2 separate regions of the Homo sapiens genome follow, and region 2 is linked to region 1. Evidence: fine-mapped expression QTL. Tissue or cell type: cerebellum. Region 1 holds a variant in brackets; the other region holds the start of a gene. All regions are shown on one strand. Distances are from middle to middle.

Evidence for each region. PIP is the estimated chance that this variant, and not a neighbour inherited with it, causes the effect.
Region 2: it holds the start of BDKRB1, and the variant in region 1 is fine-mapped to the expression of BDKRB1 in cerebellum (GTEx, PIP above 0.99).

The regions. Positions count from the first base shown.
Region 1 is chr14:96,203,174-96,205,929 of GRCh38, reverse strand. BDKRB2 (bradykinin receptor B2) reads right to left here and starts at 1,091. Exons shown (of 3, transcript NM_001379692.1): 1 at 971-1,091. RefSeq lists an enhancer at 755-1,630. The variant G/A (reference allele first, on the strand shown) is at 1,128.
Region 2 is chr14:96,254,895-96,257,394 of GRCh38, reverse strand. BDKRB1 (bradykinin receptor B1) reads right to left here and starts at 1,185. Exons shown (of 3, transcript NM_000710.4): 1 at 1,095-1,185.

The DNA of each region.
Region 1 (2,756 bases):
GGCCTGTGACTCAGTGAGGCACATTCTGACCTGCCTGGAACAGCAACACCTGCTGTTCACCTCCACCCAGGCTGCGGAAACGACCTACTCTCAGCAACTCGAATCACGGCTGCCATTTATTTAGTGCCTATGACATACGTGGTGCTTCACAGGCAAGAGCCTACCTCTATCTTTGCATAAAGAGGAACTTCCAGGTCTTCTTTATAGCTCAGGAGACAGGACAAAATAACTCGCCCAAAAACGTCACCCACAGGGTGAGAGCAGGGCTGGAGCTGCAACCTGGGCCGGATGCAAAGCCGGTGCTTGGAACCCCTGCACCATCCTATCCCCCTGCCCTGGTCAGCCAGGACCGTGGGAAGAGGGTCTCTAAGCCCATCTGAGGTAGTCACTACCACCTGCCTCCTGGAGGCGCATCAGCCAACATTCACAAACCCCCCCACCCCCGCCTGCTTCTGATTTAACCCTGCCACCCCCAGGGAGCCAGCGAGCTGGCTGCTTTGCAGACAGAGAAACTGAGGCTCAGAGAGGTTGAATAGCTTGTCCAGGGTCACACAGGGCCAAGGAGTGGCACAGCTGTGGGTGAAAAGCCAGGTTCTGGAGCCTCCACCCAGCACCCGTCCCTGCTGCACCACACACACCTCGCTGCCTTACTCCAAGGTGTCCACTCAAAGTATGTGAAAATCCAATCACGAAATCCCTCACACACTGGACACACACAAGCCTGTCTGTCACCTTGATTCAGAGAAGAGAAACCTACAACAGACAAACAGGGCGATTCCTCCTGCTGGGAACCCTTCTCCCCATCGCCTGTCAGACCTCCCCTCCGGAAGGAAGGGAACTTTTCCCAACTCCCCACGACCACAGGGAAACTTCTCCCCGCTGCCTGCCCTCCCTCCCTCCCTCTGTGCTGGGACAGTTTGTCCTCCCAGCAGAGGTGAGGCGGCTGGAGCAGCCCCTGCCCGGCACCCACCTTCTCCGGAGCAAGCGGCATGGGCACTTCAGTCGCTCCCTGGTACTGCGGGGCAGCCTGATGTCCCCACCGTCCCCACCGTCCCCACCCCTCCTCGGAGCCCAGAAGCCAGAGCTGGAGTGGCGGCGGGAACAGCTCATCTTTCAAGGGCTGGGTA[G/A]TGATGTCATCAGCCTCCTGGGCACTTCCCCCTCCGCCTCCAGCTGAGCTCTGCACTCCTGCCCAGCTGGAGCCAGGCTGGCTGTGGGGCCGGGAAGGCTGCGGCCACCTTCGCTCTCCGCTCTGCCACCCTCTGAGCCCTGGGGGCCAGGGAGGCTCTTGGAAGATTTCCATGTTTGCGTAGCCCGGCTGCCCGTTGGAGTCGTGGGACGGCAAAAACGTCCCTCCCGGCTGACCACAAAGTGGCCTGGGAAGCCCCATGTGAATAAATTTGCCTCGCGTAACATTTATTTCTTATCATTATTTATCTTCTTGAGGTGGTTATTTTGTGTCTGAGTTTTGGATGTAAACAGTGGGCGTTTACGCGGAAGGTGTAAACAGAGGGTGGCCAGGTGGGCAGGCGGAGTCCTGGGATTTCTTTGTATGCCACGTACGGCTCCCAAGGGCGACAGTGGCAGAAGCTGTCCTGTTTCCTGGGTACGGGTGTTTGCGCTCCCCTGAGACACGCGGCCGTTTCTTCGGAGATGTATGGCGGAGGTTTCTCCCATGTCAAGGCTCAGGCTGGCTTTCTCAGTTTTGCTCAAAGACTTACTAACTATCTGCAGCACTTTACACTCCCAGGGCTGAGACGGTAGGAGCTGGAAAGGGCAGGGACTTTCAAAACATTTTTTTTTGAAGCCTTAAAACCCTTCCTTCAGAAGAGAACAGATAAGAGTGGGCCCAGTGGATCTGGGGAAGAGACAGGAGGGCCAGAGGACGTCCCCCCAGCCCATCAGCTCCTCTTCCCTGTGACTTGATTCATAACAAGCCTACAAACCAGCAATCAAGCCTGATCCCATCATCATGGAGACAGGGAAACAGAGTCTCAGATCAGTTTATGGGTGGCCTGGGCGCTAGCCCTGGCTTGGCTGTGAACTGGCTGTAGGCTCTTGAGTGAAGGCCCTCCCTGGCCTGGCTGTGTGGTTGACTCATCTGTGCACCTGGCTGTTCAACCACATTGGGGCTCCTTAATCTGGAGTTTCCTGACTTGCCAGTTGGGGACAGAGGTCTATGGACAGGCTGCCCAGAGTCCACAAGCCCTCTGAAAAGGTGTGTCTGTGCTTTATCCCCTATGGAGCCTCATCTATAGCTTTCACTAAAATATTGAAGAGCTCTGAGATCCACAACATATTGAGACCTGCATGAGCGTCCAGAGACCCTCTGAAGTCTCTTCCAACTTAGATATTGTAGAGCTCTGTATCTATGAGTTGAAAATCCTCAAGGATCTGAATCCAATGTTGATGCTTCTGTAAATATCATTGACAGAAATCTCTAAAAGACATCTGTCCATCTGCACACATCTCCATCCATCTCTGTCATATAGTTTTTTAAAAAGGCTACTTTAAACCAGTTTTGAGGTCCTGGCTGGAGGCCAGCCAGTTCATGAGCAGCTGATTAAGTTCACATTCTGGCCCTTTCTCTTACCAGGTTCTCACACTCTGGGCCACTAGCCACCTGCCCTGATGGCCTTGGAGCCAGGTACCAAACAATAATGGACAGCTCCCATCATCTGGAACTCACAAACTTATTTAAGTTAGCCAATCCATAGGGAGCCAAGGAAACCTCGTTAACACCACCCTACGTGCCACAC
Region 2 (2,500 bases), 52 kb before region 1:
ATCTCCAGAACTGTAAGATAATAACTTGCATCGTTTTAAGCCACTCACTTTGTGATAATTAATTATAGCAGCCTTAGGAAACCAGCACGGGGGTGAGGCTGCACCCTGCCCAGGAAGCCAGAGACGACCAGCTACGCAGGGACTTTAGCTCGAACCTGATTAGGTCAGTGGACACCGCCCCCATCCCCAGGACGGGGAGGTGGCTGGGGCCACTGCAGCCACAGCATGTGTCTGCTCACATGGGGCTTATTTTTAAAGGGATTGTCCTCACCTGCTGCTGTCTGTGTTTATAAAGTTGGCTAGAGAGGAGAAATCTTCCTTTGCCAGTTTTCAGCTTTAGCTCTGATATTTGCCTGGAACATAGTAGGTGCTCAATAAACAATATCTCTGGATATTGTTAGTAATATGTGACCCTATTTGAAGAACTCAGAAGGGGCACTGGGCAAGTCTACAAGAGATGGCAATTCTGTAATTCCTGTGTGGTATTTTCTGAATTCTGCACATTTTAACCTAGGCTATGAGACAGTGTGACTTTCTTCAACAAATTAGTTAATTCTTCAAATTAACTCCAATTTCAACAGCATGGTGATGTTAAAGGCATTGGAAATTCAGCCACAGATGTTAAAGACCATCAGCACGGTCACATAGTAAGATGCTACTTTCAAGCCACGAATAACCCAACCAGTTATTGGTCTTATGAAATCTTGTAAGCCATCCCAGAGAGACTAATTTAATTTTTATGATTCAGAATTTGCAGGCTGTAACTGGTCAGTCCATGCGAACTCTGGTGGCTGCATTCAGCCCTGACATGTTTCACCTGACTTTGATATAAGGAGCTACTGGAACCTTCCTACGAGTTCTAAAACCTTTCCCTCCTCCTCCTGTTCTGGAAAAGCAATTAAGACCCAAACTAGGCATGAAATAAAAGTCTCTTAAATTGATTTAGAATTATTTTTAAAAAGTACCCTCACAGAAGTGGAAAATTTTGCCAATAGGTAGGTGTAAAAGGAAGTTTTTTGTTTTTCTAAGAGACACAGATTTCCTCTCATATTGTACTCTCATAAAAGAAAAAAAAAAGGTGGTCATTTACTTACTCAGGCAGAAAATGAAGGCGTTCACAACTGTAGTTGGGTTTTCTGATAGTGAGAGCTGCTTTTGGAGGAGTTTTCTCTTCTGGGAAGTGCTGTGGAGATGTGGTTGCTTTAAATTATATAACCTCCGCTCCAGTGATGTCATTGTGGGGATTGCCGCAAAAGTGAGTCTTTCGGGACTCACTCCAAGTGGATTTGGAAGGAAAAATCCACTCTCATTTCACTTTGCACTTTAGGGATGATAAGAGATTATTCAGCTACCATCTCCCCCTTTACTTTGGTACCATCTGCAGAGGTCTGCAATCCTGCCCAAGACCTGTATGTTGGCAAACACGCCCTAAAAACATGTTTTGACATCGCCAACTTGCCCCAAGGCTCGCAAAGTGTCAGTGAACATTGAGGGATGGCTTTTGGCCCCTTCACTATTGGCTTCTGAATGTCTGGGGCTCTGCAGCAGCTTTTGTGGGAGCCACTTCGAATGGCCTCTTTTGAATTTTGGTCATGAAAGATACATCGCCAAGAATCCATCAGAGTGGACCCATCACACAAACAGAGAGCTAGGAAAACGTTTGACTCATGCAATGTTCAGAGTTGAGTAAGACCAGATACATTTTTTCCTAATCCTCCTTGGCGTCTCTCAAATTATGTCTGCATGGGTCAAGTTGAACTACTCAAGACCTCATGTTTCAGACAGTAAGATATTTTTGGCTTTGAGAATCAGGTGACAAGATTCTCCAACTGAAGGCCCCTTACCTGTCAACTTACAAATTAAGATCTTTCCAGGCCACCCCCTACACGTAGGAGAACTCATTCATGCCAGAATTCAGGACTTCGAGTCTGACTTCTGGAAAGGTGACCCTCCAAATGTTTGGAGCAGAAGGTGTCACCTCTGTCTTTAGAATCTTGCCTTTTGCTTGTGTTCCCTTTTTCTGCTAGTGACATCTCAGCGGGAGCCAACTGCACTTCAAGTTTTCCTGCTGTCTTCTCCTGTTGCTGAAGACCTTAAAACTGTGGAAGTAGGTGGAACAAATAGCATTCTGAGGCTCAGTAGCGGATGTACATTTCAGGGAAGAAGCTGGAATTTGCCTTAGAGGATAGGATGGTCCCCTCCTATCAGGAGAGACCTCCTGGGTGGGATTTTTAATAAAAAAAAATTGTCAACAGGCAAGCATCTTCCATTACTCCCGGGATAGATCTGAACCGGAGGAAGGCTCCAAATCTTAGCCTTTCCTGTTACTTAGTAATGTAGGCGGGGGTCTCTCCAGCCCGTGGCTGGCTTATTCTCCCTTCAGTATGAGTTTAGACTATACTGTTTCTGAGAAGCGTTTGTTCTTAGGAGATGTCTCCCTGTTTATTCACCCAGGAGTGCGTATAAGGCCAGCTCTGCCACAAAGAGCACGTGCAGGTCT